2 linked regions of the Homo sapiens genome follow. The protein of the gene in region 1 purifies or fractionates together with the protein of each later gene. This does not show direct contact. Each region holds a gene or a part of one and is shown in the gene's direction. Other genes may lie near its edges.

What was found. Proteins that work in one complex are often made in the same cells at the same time.
Region 2: the proteins of FOXF1 (region 1) and SATB2 purify together in Homo sapiens (affinity purification with mass spectrometry; 2 studies listed by BioGRID and IntAct, with this or other methods). This does not show direct contact.

Annotation. Positions count from the first base shown.
Region 1 is NC_000016.10:86,505,680-86,514,500, forward strand, and holds the start of FOXF1 (forkhead box protein F1), read left to right. Parts: upstream 1-4,847; 5' UTR 4,848-4,890; coding exon 4,891-5,869; intron 5,870-7,245; coding exon 7,246-7,406; 3' UTR 7,407-8,821. UniProt on the Homo sapiens protein: Probable transcription activator for a number of lung-specific genes.
Region 2 is NC_000002.12:199,321,405-199,330,068, reverse strand, and holds part of SATB2 (DNA-binding protein SATB2), read left to right. Parts: intron 1-1,158; coding exon 1,159-1,371; intron 1,372-6,110; coding exon 6,111-6,266; intron 6,267-8,664. UniProt on the Homo sapiens protein: Binds to DNA, at nuclear matrix- or scaffold-associated regions. Thought to recognize the sugar-phosphate structure of double-stranded DNA.

The DNA of each region.
Region 1 (8,821 bases):
TGGAGGGAGCGGGGGCGGGCGAGGAGGGCGCGGGCCCGGCGTTAATGCGGAGCGGGGGCGGCGGCGGCCGGCGGGGCGGCTGCCCTCGCGGTGGGTGGTCGGCGGCCCCCTGCCCCGCCCGCGCGGCCGGCCTGGGCTCCCTCGGAGCGGGATCTGGTTCCCCGCTCGGGTTACGGCGCGCTCTCGGCCCGGGCGGCTTCGCTTAAGCAATTAGCTAGTAAAAATACCTTGGGCCTGGGGAGTGGGAGACGTTGCAGTCGTGTCCGTTTTTACACACCCACCCCCGCCCTGCTCGGCCAGTTTCAGGATTCCTGGGGCCAGAGATGGGGCGCAGATTTGTTTTGGGGTGGGAGGGGGCCGGTCTTCATGGATTTTAATCCAAGAGCAAAAGGCTGCCCGCGATCTCTGTCCCTGTCTGCATTTTCTCCTCCATCCCTGGAGCTGAGCCCCTGGGGTTTTTGTTTCTGTTTGTACAACCTAAGCCTTCCCTGCATGGTCTTGTCCAACCCTCTGTACGACCCCAAGAAATAGGAACCATGATGAGTTCCATTTTTCAGATAAAGAAACTAAGGTGCAAAGAGCTTATGCATCATCCTTACATGGTGGGGCGAGTTCAAATCCCCCTGCCTTTGGGGTTCGCGGCAGCGGGGCCCCTCTGCCCTGAGCACCGCTGAGCCTCACCCCGTGGTCAGGACACTTAACGCCCTGGTTCTGCAATCAGGCCAGGTTTGGATACTGGCTTTGCAGGGTGACCCAGGACCTGGAGTGACCTCGCAGAGCTCCAACTGTGAATGAGGAGGGAAATTATACTGACTTGGTAGGGGCATCGGTGAATATTACACAAGTCTCTTAGGGACACTTAACCAGTGTCCTGAGTTCATGGTTGGTGCCTCACAGGTTCACAGATGGGCTCCAGACATTTGGCGAAACCTTCAAAATCATTCTACGAATGTCACAAATATGCACCTTCTGGGGGCGGGGGCAGGTCGGACTAATTTTCAAAGGATTGACAGCCAAGAGGAAGGTTAGGAGCAGACAAGGGCAGTTCATCGAGTGAGGAGCAGCGCCTGGTGCCTGGGCAGCAGTGGATGAGCCTGTTATTATCTAGTATTCGTAGTTGTCATTGCTATTTTATCACCATCAGTTCCCCAACGGGGGCTCTCTGTCCCCTTGGCCCTGGGAAGCCAGGGCTGTGTAATGATGGCAGAGGCATTTCTAAGCCCCATTCTCTCCACTCCCCGCCTACACAGAGGCACATGGGAGAGTGAAACGCCAGGAAATTTTGTCCTTGGACGTAGAGAGGGGAGATGGAGAGTGTTCACCTCTCAGTGCTGGCTGATAAGAGATTCAAGTCCATGCTGAGCCTCAGTTTCTCCACCCTAAAAATGTAGGATCAAGGGAGACCTCTCAGGGACATTGTAAGAGCTGAGAATGAAGTCTCTGAGCATGAAGGAAAGCCCTTCTTGCTACGGCTGTGGTTTTCCCCAGAATTCAGGGGGTCCCCTCCAAATTACAGAGCTGGGAGCTCATTCGCCTCCTCTCTCACGCCCCCACTTCTACACACACCCAGCAGTAGAGATGAGCAGTTGGGGAGAGCCTCCATCTTTGGCCTTCCTGAGACTCCCAGGCCTACTGGGCCGGCTCTTTCGCTGGGCTCCGTGACTGGCTGTTCTGTAAGGTCTGGTTTGCTATCAGAGCCGGTGAAAGGGCAGAAAGAAGGGTGGAAAGGAGGGAAAAATGGATCTCCGGGTTAGCCAACGATGGGACCTGCGGCTTCCCTTCCCCAACTGAAGAGGGCCCAGGAGTGAAGGAGTCTGCTGGGAAAGGGCTCCCCAACTTCATGCTCTAGGGACCCGCTCACTTTGAAGGCGCCCCATGAGTGGGGGAGGGGCGAGGGGAAGGGAGATGCTATTTCCACTTTCAGCGAGCCGCAGCGTGCGCCCTGCACCCCTAGCTGGCTTAAGAGCTGTGCAGCCTTCTCTGCTCACCTCTGCTAAGGGCCAGATGTGCTCTGGCAGTCGGCAGTAGCGACCCCTTCCTGGGAACAGAACTTTCCTCCGGAGGCCAGGGTCTCCTCATCTGCAACTGCCATTTGCCACACACACACACACAAAAGTTGGGAGAGAATGTGAGAATGCTTGTGTTCGTGGACGCGTGCGCACGTATGGAGCGGCGGTACCTATGATTATTTGCGCGTGGCGCCTGGCTATGCGTGGGCGAACGCGCAGTGGAGAACATGTGGGCGTGCATGAAGTGTGCACTTAAACCAAAGTGTGCCCTCCCCGTTGGGCAGGCCTGTGTGTTGGTCCAAGGGTTGGGAGCGCCTGAGCTGTGTGAGGGTCGCTGGGAAGGGTGTTTGAGGCCGTGGGCGGTGCGGAGCGTGTCTGTGTGCGCGGAGGCTGAGCTGGTTGTGTGAAGTGGTAGCGGGTCTGCCAGAGAGCGTTTACCTGCGTGAATGCACAACCACACACTACGGGTCACGTCCCACACTCATTCTTTCCCTAGGCGGGCCAGGCTGTCTGCACGCGGAGACCCAGAGAGGCCAGCGGAAGGGCAGCGCGGGAAGGCGGCTCTCTTCTCCCGCGAGCGCAGATCTGGCGGAGGAGGCGGCGACTGCCCGGCAGGCTGCGCCGGCGAGCCCCCCAGCTCCTCTCACCGACGTGCCAGGCGCCCCGAAGGCGACAGGCGTCTCCCGCCGAAAATGAAGGCGTCCGAGCCAGGAAGGTGGGGGCGGGTAGTTAGCGGGAGACAAGGAGTCCGGAGAAAACCGAGAGGCGGGTAGGCTTTGAACGCGCCGCGCCGCGGGCCGTGCTGCGAGCCCGGCACACGCCTCTCGCCCCAGCTCGCGCTGGGGCTTGGCCTCTAGGCTCTTCGCGATGACCCGCGAAAACACCCCTCGCCCCCCTCTTCTCAACTCGGAACCCTGGAGGGAGAGGCCGCGCCCGGCCAGCAGTCGCTGCGAGAGCAGCACTCACCTGGGTCTGTGCGCGCCGCGATGCGCCGGGGCTCCTGCGCTGTCCTGCGCTCCGCTCTCGGCACCACCTTTCGTGGCTCCACCGCCCCCAGCCCGCACCCGAGCGCTGAGGTGGCAAGGGCAGGTCTGCGTGCGAGCCCCCTGCGGGCTGGCAGCCAGGTGCGCGAGGGCCGCCCTTGCCGGCGCTCCCAGCCCGCGCTGTCTGCTCTCAGGAACCTGGCCTGGCGCGCAGTGTCAGAGGCCCCGCGGCGGCGGCAGGCCGAGCCCACAGGGGCATTAGGCCAACTCCCCCCTCCCGCCCTGCGCACGCGGAATTCTCTATTATTATTATTAAAGAATCCCCCAGAACTTGTTTACGTTAAACCCTGTAAACTTCCTGCCAGGGCCTTTGCCATCTCTCGGGAAATCGGAACCTGCGCTTTGAAAACGGGGCCGCGGGGCCAAATAGGCGGGTTTTCAGTGTGTGTTGGGGGTGGGGGAGGGCAACTGAACTACGTGTGAGTTCAGATCCGAGCGTGGCGTGTGTACGCGTGAGTGGGAGTGAGTGCGAACTTAAGCTCCTGTGGGCCTTAAGCTTCCGTGTCAACGAGTGCATTAGTGGGTGCGCACATGCCTGAGCGCCCTCTGCATATGAGTGTGCACACACGCATGGGTGTGTTTACACGTCTGTTTGCGTAATTTACCGGGTTTGCATGTGCATCAAGACATGTATGTGTGTGCTAATGTGTGGACAAGAGCGCGAGGGTGTGCGCGCACGGGTGAGTGACTGAGCACGCCGCTTATTCAGGGGCCTGTGCGGTCTGGGTCGCCTCTGGGCCAGCGGGTTCTCACTCGCCCCCGTCAGGCCCGCGGCGCCCGAGACAAAGCGGCCGCGACTCGTGCTGCGCTTTCGTTTTCCGCCTGCGCTCTGCCCCGGCGGCTGCCCGCCCGCTCGCAAGCTGCTGGGCGAGTCCGAAAAATCCCGGGAGCGGCGCAGTTCTTCCCGGGGCGGGGAGAGTGGGTAGGCGGTCCCTCGCGGGAACTTAGCCGGCCGGCCGCGAGGACCGGAGTCGAGCCGGCTGTGCCTGCGATGGTCACGACCGGGAGGCCGCCGCACTTGCGATTTGCTACAGGGCTGTGCGCGTCGGGGAAGGCCCCGGCCCAGGGAGCGTTTCCCGCCGCGCCGCCCGGGCGGGGAAGGCGGGGTCCAGCGCGCACCGGGGCTGAACCGCGGGCGGAGGGCGCATTAACACTTGCTCGCCAGGTTGGTGGAGGCGGGGCGGATTCTGCTGGCGGCCGCGGGGCGGCGAGAGTGGGGGCTCTTTAAGCGCCCACCAACGCGGGGGCCCGAGGGGGGCAGGGACGGAGGGAGGGAACTCCGGGAGGGTCTTAGGCCGACCCGCGAGACGCAGCCGAGCGGAGATGGAGTGAAGGCTGCCTCGCCCGGAATCTCGGAGCCGAGCGCCGCGGGCGGCGGGGACTCAGGGCTGCTCCCGGCTGGGGCGCACGGCCGTAAGACCTGGAGGTGGTGCCTCCCCCCAAAAAATACCGGCGGGGGTAGCTTCCTCACGGCCTTCGCCCGGGCTGCCCTCGGCCTCAGCTCGGCTCCTTTCCTTGTGGGAGGGCGAGAAAGAAAGAGGGAGGAGAGAGGTGGGGGAGGCGGGAGTTGGAGAGAGAGGGGCTCTGAGCCAACCGCCGGCGGATCCAGCAGCTCCTCGGGGAGGGCGGGCGGGAGCGCGGGGGCGGGCGCGCCGCGGCTCGCTCGGGAGAAGTGGCCGCCGATGACGGCAGAGGTGCAGCCAGCCCCGCGCGCGCAGCCCCCTCCCCTTCGCCCTCCTCCCCCCCGTCGTCCTCTTCCTCCTCCTCCTCCTCCTCCTCCCGGCCCGTCCGCGGCGCAGAGCAGCGGCGGCAGCGGCGGCGGCGGCAGCAGCCACCCGATGTCTTCGGCGCCCGAGAAGCAGCAGCCACCGCACGGCGGCGGCGGCGGCGGCGGCGGGGGAGGCGGCGCGGCCATGGACCCCGCGTCGTCCGGCCCGTCCAAGGCCAAGAAGACCAACGCCGGCATCCGGCGCCCGGAGAAGCCGCCCTATTCCTACATCGCGCTCATCGTCATGGCCATCCAGAGTTCACCCACCAAGCGCCTGACGCTGAGCGAGATCTACCAGTTCCTGCAGAGCCGCTTCCCCTTCTTCCGGGGCTCCTACCAGGGCTGGAAGAACTCCGTGCGCCACAACCTCTCGCTCAACGAGTGCTTCATCAAGCTACCCAAGGGCCTTGGGCGGCCCGGCAAGGGCCACTACTGGACCATCGACCCGGCCAGCGAGTTCATGTTCGAGGAGGGCTCCTTTCGGCGGCGGCCGCGCGGCTTCCGAAGGAAATGCCAGGCGCTCAAGCCCATGTACAGCATGATGAACGGGCTCGGCTTCAACCACCTCCCGGACACCTACGGCTTCCAGGGCTCGGCCGGCGGCCTCTCGTGCCCGCCCAACAGCCTGGCGCTGGAGGGCGGCCTGGGCATGATGAACGGCCACTTGCCGGGCAACGTGGACGGCATGGCCCTGCCCAGCCACTCGGTGCCCCACCTGCCTTCCAACGGCGGCCACTCGTACATGGGCGGCTGCGGCGGCGCGGCGGCCGGCGAGTACCCGCACCACGACAGCTCGGTGCCCGCCTCCCCGCTGCTGCCCACCGGCGCCGGTGGGGTCATGGAGCCGCACGCCGTCTACTCGGGCTCGGCGGCGGCCTGGCCGCCCTCGGCGTCCGCGGCGCTCAACAGCGGCGCCTCTTATATCAAGCAGCAGCCCCTGTCCCCCTGTAACCCCGCGGCCAACCCCCTGTCCGGCAGCCTCTCCACGCACTCCCTGGAGCAGCCGTATCTGCACCAGAACAGCCACAACGCCCCAGCCGAGCTGCAAGGTGAGTGGGGAGGCCGAGGGCGCCCTGGTCCCCGGGAAGTCGAGTCTGAGTGGCAGCGGGACCCAGCTGGGGCGAGCCCCTCCACTTCTGTGGTCGGAACCCCAAGGCTGAGGGGAGGCACCAGCTCCCCAAGGTGTCTCTTGGCCCCACCTCTCCCCCTTCGAAGAGTGACTACCGCTCTTGACCCTAGTTTGGGCCAATCTGTTTCTCTTTCTGTTCGAACTCCAGCTGCCAGCTGCTCCAGGCCTGACCAGGTAGGCTGGTCCTGAGCCAGATGTCCCAGACCCCAGTGCCCTAAGTCCTTTTGTGTCCCTTAAGTCCCCTCACAGCTTGGAAAGATCCTGGGATGGACCCAAGGCTCCCAGCGCTGGCCAGATGGCTGTCCCTCCCTGGTGGTGGCCCTCAGGCTGCCTGGAGGGCTGCCTCTGCCTGGGGCTGGGCGGAACGGAAGGTGTTAGGCCCAAAGCCGCTGGGCCAGCGCTCAGAGGCTCAGCCCCGGCCTTTCAGGGGACCAGACCTGGCAGACCCACAGCTGAGTCCAGGGGCATTTTGTGGTGACTGAGGCAGGAGGGTGCCGTGGCCAGGCCCCGGAGGGTCAGAGCTGCAGACCGGGCCATGGGGGCTCCTTGTTTTTTAGGATCCAAGTTTTCAGGTCCCCACACCCCCAACACCCCTGATACCCCAATACCCCGAACATGCAGAAGCATCTGCCAAGGGAGATGCAGCAGCCTCGCCTCCTGATTCTGCCCCAGGCCCCCCGCAGCCTGCAGGCCCAGCTCTGGAAAAAGCTGGAGTGAGCTTGCCAGGGCCAGTCCAGGGTCAGCTGTCAGCAGCCCCAGGAGGCAGGAGCCAGGCCTGGAGGCCTTAGGCAGCCTCTCTGCGGGGGACTCCCCGGCTCCGGGGCCTGTTCTCTGGAGAAGCTTCTTCTCACCCCTGCTGCTGGCCCGGCGCTGGCCCTGCACTGGCCTCTCCTTCAACCCCGCCGGCAGTCGTAGCCTCTGAGGTTGGGGGTGGTGGTGGCTGCCCTGGCGGTGACGGCCATGGGCGTTAGGGGCCCTCCACTTGGTCTCCCTCACCACTTCCCCTATGGCTCTGGAAGCCCTGGGCCCCTGCACGGTGTCCGAGGCTGGACAGGCACGCAGCAGGCAGGCAGGCAGGCAGGCAGGCAGGCCGTGGCAAGTGTTCTGGAGTCTTTTCCTTGGGTGCGCAGCTGGAAGGCCGGGACTCGGGGAGGAGAGCGGGGAGGCGGCCGTGCTCTGGAGCCAGGCTGACAGGCCCTGTGCGCCCCACGGGAGCACTGCTCCTCTGCCTGAACTCTGAGCCACCGTGGCTAACTCTTCTGCTCCCCCAACCCCTCCTGTCGCCTCGCCTTGCAGGCATCCCGCGGTATCACTCGCAGTCGCCCAGCATGTGTGACCGAAAGGAGTTTGTCTTCTCTTTCAACGCCATGGCGTCCTCTTCCATGCACTCGGCCGGCGGGGGCTCCTACTACCACCAGCAGGTCACCTACCAAGACATCAAGCCTTGCGTGATGTGAGGCTGCCGCCGCAGGCCCTCCTGGTGCAGGCAGGCGGGTCACAGGGACCCTGGACCGGCACAAGAAACTGCTTTCTTCTCGAGGTATAACCGTCGGCAGAAGAAAAGGGTTCCACCTCTCCCCAACCGGAGTTTTTGGCAAGGAGTCCCCAATGCAAAGACACAGCGCTGCGGTTGGCACCTCCTTCCTCACTCCTTCAAAATTGTTAAGAAATGTTAGTGGTGGGTCTGATCTGACTGCAGCCATCGGTAAATAAAAGTTTTTGATCCTGTTGAACCCGCCTGAGACGGTGCTGTGCAGGGGAAAGCCCCCGCACCCACACAGGAATTCTGCTGAGGTCCCCCCTCCTTCCGGCCAATGGCAGAAGTGGGGGAAAATTTTTAGAAGAAAAGCAAACATGTGAGACCAATCATTATCAAATACTTTTATTTTTTGGTTGAGTATTTATCTTTTTATTTTTTATTTTTTTTTTGAAAGAATGTCTTGGAATGCGCAAGTCTCCCTTTAGAGCCGTCTTTTGCAGGGAGCGGGAAGTGACAAGAGCTCAGATCTCCCTCCCGATCTCCCTCCCCACCTCCGAAGTCTCCTCCGTGGACCACAGGTGGATCTTTGTGCGAACAACTTGCATTTCGGAAGCCACTGTCCGTCTTTAAACAGAAAGTCAAAGGAGCCACGAAGCAAGCGGCCGTCCGGGCGTCCGCCTCCGTCCCCTTCCATGTTCCTCCTCTTCCTTCGCTTCAGCCTCTTCTGTTATGTTTTGTCTTGAATTTTATTTAGACTTTTTCAGTGGGTATTTTTCTGTCTCCCAACCTCTACTGTAAACTTTCTGGTCCGAGAACGAGCCGAACACAGCGCGACGCAGGGACTAGGACGGCCCGGTGACCGCGCGGATTCAGGATTGCGGGGACGCAGAAAGGTTAAGGCACTTTTAAAAACTATAGCAAGGCTCCTGTTTATTTATTCTACTTTCTTTCCCTAATAATCAAAACACCGCGTAGGCTCCTCCGTTTATCAGTATTAATGGTGTAACTTTGTTGGCAATATTTGCCGTGTAGAATTTTTTTTAGATATCCATTGTAAATTTGAAACAAAGACCGATCTGTGTAAAAACAAATTTCCATATGTTTTATATAAATATATATATAATATGAAGGACTACCCTCCTTTTTTTTTTTTGTATTTTGGCTGCTAGAGTGCAGCATTTGTGACACGTATTTGAAATTTGAAATTTCCTTCTGCACTGTATAAAAGGACCATTTGAGGATGTTTTGCCTTTTGTGTATTTTTTCCTAAAAAAAGAACAAAAATAAAAATGTATAACATTTGTACATGGCCTTTAAAATTGTATCAACTAGAAATAAAATTGCATGAGTATTTTATTGGGACTGAGATTGTAGAATACCTTCCAGACTCCC
Region 2 (8,664 bases), on another chromosome or scaffold:
TTCTACTTTACTACAGTTAAAGAAGTGACTTTTCATGATTTCAGTTGCCCCATCTGTTCTAAGATATGGGATTAACATCTCAGGTCTTCCCAGGAGGATAATCCTAAACCCTGTTCTTATACTGCTCTGAGAAGCAATATATTAGCTGGGAATATAAAGTGATGTCTCTGTGTGATAATCCAACAAGTGTGCAGAATGGAAATAGACCTGCACCTACCCCCAGTACGACAATGTCCCACCTTAGATCTCCAGCCCTTTTCTGGAGTCCATACTACTTTTCTCTAGACTTGGCAGCATTTTCCTTTTCTTTGTGAATTCTCTGTCGTCAGAGCACATGAAAACCCTGACTTCCTATTTAAATCTTTCTATTTGGGTGAGTCACACATTCAGAAAGTATCTGGGCCTATCATGGCATTCCGTGCACACTGTTATTACAGTGTGCTCAGCCCCTCGCCAGAGGTGACTTCATTTTCATTGCTTTAATGGTGACATTAGGGTTTCCCCCATGAAGACGTCTCATGAAAGATTTGGGTGCCCTTTGTACATATGTAAGGATAACTATTGTGTGTATAGATTGGGAAATTATCAGAGGGTTAACACAATTTAGCCATTTGCTTTGCGTCTTTTTTTTTTTTTTTTTGCATAAGAAATATCTCTATTGAAAACAGTGGCCGGTCATACAGAAATTCAGCCAGTTTTTTTTTTAAATTGATGTAAATCTACCATGCTGTTTAAATGTCGAAACTAAATTTACCAAACTTGGCAGATTTGTAAAGCTAAGCAGGACTGCCAAGTGTTCCCAGTTTCAAGCAGAGAGAGTTCTAACAGTTCCTGAAATACTTGTAGGAGGCACCTGGTGGTAATTGCAGTTTCACAATTCTTCCCAAGTGCCTACCTTGCTAGCTGGCATGTCTGTACACTGATGATTATTACAGTGATGATAAAGTGTCAGAATAGAACAGTCCTAAAATAATGCATATCCCCCGGAAGGCAAGCACATTGACTTCATATCGGAGAACCCTAAGGAATTAGTGTGAGGTTCTTGACATCACAGCGAGCTGGTTAAACCAAACAAAGGAGGAGAGGGGTGGAAGACAGAAACCACACACATATACCTGCAAATGTGACTTGGTCTGTTTTTTTCCCCCATTTAATCAGGGATTGTTGTCTGAGATTCTGCGTAAGGAAGAAGACCCTCGGACAGCCTCTCAGTCTCTTCTAGTAAACCTGAGGGCCATGCAGAATTTCCTCAATCTGCCAGAAGTGGAGCGAGATCGCATCTACCAGGATGAGAGGGAGCGGAGCATGAATCCCAATGTGAGCATGGTCTCCTCGGCCTCCAGCAGTCCCAGCTCCTCCCGAACCCCTCAGGTGAGAAACTTGCTTTCCGTATTTTTCACTCTTTGTCTTGGAAACATCTTGCCTTCACTAGTTACTGTGTTTTCCCTCAAACATTGAGAGACATAATTCAAGGATTTCTTTCCTTTTTTTCTTTTCTTATTTTATTTTATTTTATTTTAATTTTTTTGAGATGGAGTCTTGCTTTGTCACACAGGCTGGAGTGCAGTAGCATGATCTCGGCTCACTGCAGCCTCCGCCTCCTGGGTTCAAGGAATTCTCCTGTCTCAGCCTCCCAAGTAGCTGGCATTAGAGGCACCAACCACCATGCCCTGCTAATTTTTGTATTTTTTGTAGGGATGGGGTTTCACCATGTTGGCCAGGCTCTTCTCGAACTCCTGACCTCAGGTGATCCGCTTGCCTTGGTCTCCCAAAGTGCTGGGATTACAGGCGTGAGCCACCGTCCATGGCCAATTCTATGATTTCTTAATCCGCTGAACATGTTGGTCAGAGGATATGAACTTCTGACCATATATGATCCCATACTATATTTCTGTCCCTTTAGGAAGTCCCATTCTTCCATACGTGGTAGGTGAGGGGTAGGAAGGTAGGAGTGGGCACAGGGGCGGGCTCTAGGATGTTTATACATAGCTGCTCAGTTAGGAGTTAGGGCATTTGTGTTGAAGCTGAGTTTGCATAGCAAGCACACTGCTTTCCCTCAAATTGTATGTTTATTTGGTTGGGCTGGATGGGGTAGAGGTGGCTGAGGGCAGGGGGCAGAGGGTAGTTGAAGCTCTGTTTTATGTAATCTGAAAAAGACAAAATGGAGGAACACTTGCAGTGGAAGCATGCATATGCAGTGTCCAGATCAGAATGACTGAGATGTCACTCAATGATCCTTTAGAAAATGATGGTGGAAAGGTAGGCCTTAATTATTTTCCATCCTAGGATGATCTCCCCACAGAATTTGGTGACTTCCATTCTTCCTCTCCACACACTTGAAAAGTATTCTTTTCTTAGGCCCTCATGCAAATGTATACATCTAGTAATGTGTGCTTCAAAGCTCCTAACTCAAGGGTCAAGGTCTCAAGGCAGTCAGGGGTCATTTCTAGTTCACATCCAAGCCCACTCATTTCTGGCCTATCCCCTATTTCCCCTAAACTTTTACTACTCGATAGATTTATGATAAGGCCAGTCCGTTCACTGTTGCTATGATAGTTGCAGGTTCTGTCTGAGTGCTAATTCTCAAAACCAGTATTTAACAGGTATAAATTTTTTTTGTTTGTTTTTGAGAAGGAGTCTCACTTTGTTGCCCAGGCTGGAGTGCAGTGGTGTGATCATGGCTTACTGCAGCCTCTGCTTCTCAGGTTCAAGTGATTCTCCTGCCTCGGCCTCCCGAGTAGCTGGGATTACAGGCACATGCCACCACACCAGGGTAATTTTTTGTATTTTTAGTAGAGGTTGGGTTTCACCATGTTGTCCATGCTGGTCTCGAACTCCTGACCTCAAGTAATCTGCCCACCTCGGCCTTGCAAAGTGCTGGGATTACAGGCATGAGCCACCGTGCCCGACCTAATGGATATACATTTATACAAAGCTGAAAAATGGGCGGTTCAAAACCAAAGGTTGTTTTGCTTAGATATTATAGCTTTGGTTTTGCGTTTTCTGATAAATTCTAAGGAACTGATTAAGCATAGAAGCAGAATTGTATCCTAGTAGAAATATTTGAGCTTTTTCAAGTATATCCATTTTTTCACACATTTTAACTCTTTTTATATTTTTGTACTCTGCAATAAACTTTTAATTGAAGATTACTTTCTATCATGCACTGCCAAATTGTGTTACTTACACTTCAGTCTTTAGTGAATTATGAGTTTTAGTTACTGTTTGAACCAAAAATAAGTCTCTTGACTGCTTACTTTGGATGAGTATAACCAAGCATTTTTGTTTACTTAAAAAAAAATCTGGGGACATACATACTGAGCTAGTAAGTTGGGCAAGTTGTTAATGTGCACTAATATTTACTTCTGCTAAATTCATCAATATTTTTGCCACTTTTGAAGCCCATTAAACCATTATAGAAGAGCCCAGGCATACTTCATGGCCATTTGACAAGGCAGCTCTTCTTAGAAAGTTACTTCTGCTTGTTAGAAATTAACACAGGTCTGTGTATTTGTTTTCAGCTCTTTTGTACTATTTTCCTAACAAGATTATATATCGTAGGCACCTTTTCAAAGACCTAATAGCTTTCAGTGCCAGACTGACTTACAAGGCCCCACAGTTAGGGTCAGTATTTTGCTTATTTTGACCAGAATGCCATCTAGAAAATTCATACAGATGCCCTTTAGGGATAGGTGTAGCAGGGAAATCTCTTATTTAATATCACAGTTTTGATATTTTTGAAAATAAATATTTAAACATGTTTTTGAGAATACGGTCATGGCATTGCATTTGTACATTCTCTAGAATTGTCTTTTTCTCTTGGGTAAAGATTGAGAAAGGAGAGTTTATTAAAGTCTTTTAAAACATTTCATGATTACTGACTTAAAATTCTTTACAGTCATATCTCAACAGTAAAGATCGTAGTACAGTACAGATTTTATTGTGAGAACAAGTATTAGAGGAGTACTCACTGACTCAGCCTTTTAGTTGGAGTCAGCAATTTAGTGCACACAAGCAGCTTGACATTGATGCAGGGAGATTATTTTCCAGACCCCATCTATACTTTATTAGTAGCTGAAAAACAAATTGAAGAAATTTGAAATTTGAAATTATACCTCCAGTCTCTTTTTATTTCTTCAGCTGGCCAGCATTCCATGGTGTACTTAATAATGACAAAACAATACTAAGATAAGAATGATCATTTGTTAAAACGCTTACTGTGTATTAGGTGTTGTGAACATTTTGCATGAATTCAGTTGTCACCATTTTATGGTATTATGCCCATTTTACAGATGAGGGAACTGAGGTTTAGATGGATTCAGTAACTTGTGTAAGGGCACATGGCTGAGGGGTTTCGTCTTAGCCCTCATGGTTGGAGAGAAGGCTTGACCAATCAGGTAGGATGAGATAGTCAGTGAGGCAAATTAAGAAAACTGAATTGAGAAAGGGCAGACATGCTATGCTAAAACGTTCTCTTAACAGGGAAAGCACTGTGGGTTAACTAGAAATTTTGAGCAGAACAAATAGTTTATTTTAAAAAATTACAGATAATTGAATTTTTAATGGGAAAGTCCCAACATAGCAAGAAAATTCTTACAACAGCACCTGGCATAAATTGGAGATTTTGGAGGCAGTGTGTAGTGCAGTGTCCTGAGCCCATGTTTTTGAGCCTGAAAGACTTGCGTTCAGATCATGGTTCCTTCACTGGCTGCTGGGTGTCCTAGGTTAAGATCCTCTTTTATTTCAGTTTCTTCATCTGTAAGATGAAAATAATAATATCTAACTCATTGGAATCTTAAAAGAATTAAATGTGAAAACAAATGTTAAAATGCTTTCTGGAGTACCTGGCCCATAAAAAGCACGCCATAAATTATAGTAATTATTGCTTTGCGGTAATTAGAAAATAGTATGAGAGAAGGAGGTAGAAGAAAAATGGCAGAAGTTACTGAGCACTGTTAGGAAGCAAAGCCTTTATGGAAACGTAGGGCCTTAAGTTCTGCCGCTAGACACCATTTGTCACAGAGTCCACACTGCCTGTTACATCTTTCTCTGGACCTGCATACTGCTGGATCCAGTAGAGAACAGCTCAGGGCATCCGCACAGGGAAACTTGTGATTTGGAGATAACTCTGTTGGTTTGAGATTCTAGGGTGAATGGGGACAAAGAGAAAAAACCCAGGTTAGGCCAATTCGGCTGGTAGTGCACAAGGATCAAGGATGTCTTTTCCTGAAATCTTGCTGCCAGAGGTTCTAAGAAAATGTCTCAGCCCTCTCTTATTAGACACCAGCAATGCATTCTAGGGCTCACACCAAGTAAATGTTATGACCGTCTTTTGGATTAAGTAGATTCAGACATTTTAGGGTTATCCTAACCCCAAGAAGTACAGACTTCTATATTGTCCTTCATTTGTCTCTGAAGCTGATGGGAAATCATTCAATTAAAACGAGCACTGCAGAATACATAAAACCGCAATATGAGTTTAAGAAAATGAAAACGGCACATCAAAGGCATTGTGAAGCCTAGTTTTATGAAATGAAATTTTGTTTCATTTCCACTGATTTCCTAGGTGAAATTAGGTGACTGTCTGGGTAGCATAATGATGATAATGATGGGAAACCATACATACTCGAATGACATATGTAAAGCTTTAATAAAGAATAAGAGAGACTTGGGAGTGCATTAAATTGAGTAATAATTTATTATTTAGAGACCTCTACCCATTTACTTATTTTTTTTCTGGAAGAATTGGCTCTTATTCCAAGGTGTGCCATTTTTAGAAAGAAAAGGTTAACTGTGTGTGTGTTCTGCATGTTTGTTTTGTAGTTAGATGGTTGCTTATAGTTTGGTGTCTAGGAGAGCCATCCTACCTGTGAACCTTCGTCTGGGATGCTGTGAGAGAACAGGGTTGACAGGATTCTGCATGTCCTATAGGAATGCACTGCAATTATTTCCAATCACAATTAACCTGATTAGAATAATGGACAGGAAGTGTCCCTCTGTAGCTAATGCAGTTTGGCATCAGCTGACTGAAATCCTTTGATAATTTCTGCACAGATGGCTGGGCTGAATGCAGCACTTTTTAAATTATTATTTTCATGGTCTCTTGGTAGGCCAAAACCTCGACACCGACAACAGACCTCCCTATTAAGGTGGACGGCGCCAACATCAACATCACAGCTGCCATTTATGACGAGATCCAACAGGAGATGAAAAGGGCCAAGGTGTCTCAAGCCCTGTTTGCCAAAGTGGCTGCAAATAAAAGTCAGGTGAGTGGTTTTTAAAAAAGCAAAATCGAGGGCTGGAATTAGATCCTTCTCCTTCCTCCACCAATAAAAATACATCTGTTCCTATAATAATAATAACAGTAATAACCCCCAAGAAACCTGTCATGTTCTGCCTTTTACTCTAGTTTGCTTTTATTCCCATTGGAGTTCAAAATAGAGATGAAGCCAAAACTTGACCTTTTTTCTTTTAAAGATTAAAAAAAATTAGCCTCGAATGATTTCTCTCCTTATTCTAAACACTGCAATGTACCCTTTTGTTTCTCTCCCTTTATATATGTGTGTGTGTGTGTGTGTGTGTGTGTGTGTGTATGAACAAAACTTAGAATGTATATAACAGCACCTTTCTGAGACCAAGTTTTAGCCAAGTCTCATCACCTTTCCTGTTCCCACAAGGGGAATGTCCAACTCTGTTATAATAACCACTTTTCCCCAGCCCCAGAGACACCTTTTGATGTCAGGTGTTTCTTTTATGTACAGAATACAGTTGATTTTTTCAGGAGAAAACACACGTGGGGGGAGTGCAGAGTAAGTGCTAAAATCTTTTAACAGAAAAACACAGAAGCTTATCCAGTAAAATTTTTCAGAGTTCTGGGATTGTGGAGAATGTAATGCTCTGGGGAAAAGAGCAGACAGATGCTTAGGTTTTTTATTTCTGAAAGCAGCAACAGTTGATGGGATCTACTATCTGCTTCAATTCTTCATTTAAAGGGACAACTTCTGCCCAAACCTAGAATCCTAGGTTTGAGGTGCATGCTCACTTATGTATACCTAGGGCGAACACCTAATGCAGAGTGGAGGAAATAAAAGTTAGTTAAAGCATAATTTTGAGAGTCCTTTGATTCTGAGCTTGATTTCCTCTGTGTCCTTATATGACAAATGTTTTCATCCCTACATATGTAAATAATCAAATGGTTGATCATCTCCCTAACAAATCTTCTGTTGTGTGCTATAAAGAAAGGAAGTGACTGAGTATTGTATTTCTATTAAGCAAGAAGGTTTTCAATAAAAATTAAATTTTTAAAACTGAAAAACTTCAAACTGTAGTTAAATGTTATATTTAGATTAATTATAGAGTACAGGGTTAGCCTTCTTTACCTGCAGTTTTAACCTGATATAGGTTATTTTTAGATGTTGATAAAAGGAGGGGAGTAGAATATCAAGGAACTTGGAAAGGGATTGAAATGTTTGTTTCCCTTTTCAATTTCAGTGTAGTAAGTTTTCCAGATTACTCTGACTTTCTCTCTTCAATGAAATCAGTGAAATACAGTTTGCTAAGACATAATGTCCAACCATAGTATGAAATACATGAAAAGAAAATACCATAGAGCCTTCTTAAACTGTTAAATGCATAAAATCCCATGTACCACATGGCAAAATATAATGAGAGTTGGAGCTGTTAAACGAATAAAGCTGTTAAATGCATAATGCCACTTGGCAAAACTACTGTGCATTTAATGGTTTTCCACTGTGTAATAAAGGACATATGTGGTAAATGTGCAGTGAGTATAAAAGCTGCACAATTGATTTTGCAAACCTGCCCCTTAGTTGTGACTTGATGTAAATATCAAAGTTTCACACAGTCCTTCTTTTATAAGCAGCTTTCAAGAAAAACTGAAGACCACAGTCTGAGAACTTGATTCCAAAAGCCTGTAATCTTCCTGTTGATTTAGCAGTATGGCTTTTGGAAATAGTGATGCCTCCAGCCTCCTAAAATAATTCAGGTAGCTGATTGAAAGCTGCTTTTGCCAACTGGCAGAAGCTTAGCTCTCCAAATTTTTGATGTCTCCTGAAGAAATCAGTAGCCCTGATTTCGTAGAATTTGGAGAAGAACATAGTTCTGGGAATTAATATGCTGAAGGTAAGATTGAGCTTAAGTGAGGATAAGATGCTTTGAGGTTGTTCCTTTTTCACTGGGACAATGATCTCATTTTCATCTATGAGTGGGGAACCTTATTGTAAATAGCTGACTAGATAGGCAATTCAGGCACTATGTTTATTATGTTTTTTTTTTAAAAATGATACTGCCAAACAAAATGAATTTAATTGGCAGTTTCAAAGGCAATTTAACAAAAGATATTCACTCCATTTTATAAGTATCAGTATTCATTTGATAAAAAGTACATTTAGTGAAATCAATTGCATGATTTGGTACATGGCATATATATTTGGTGGCTATCCATAAGGTGTATCTATGTGTGTGTACCTGTGTGTACATGTGTGTGTATGTGTGTATATATATACACATATATGTATATATGTATATGTGTGTATATACATGTATGTGTATATACACATATATACATGTATGTGTATACATATATAAATCTATAAGGTGTATATATGAGACTGAGATATATATATATCCATAAGGTGTATCTGT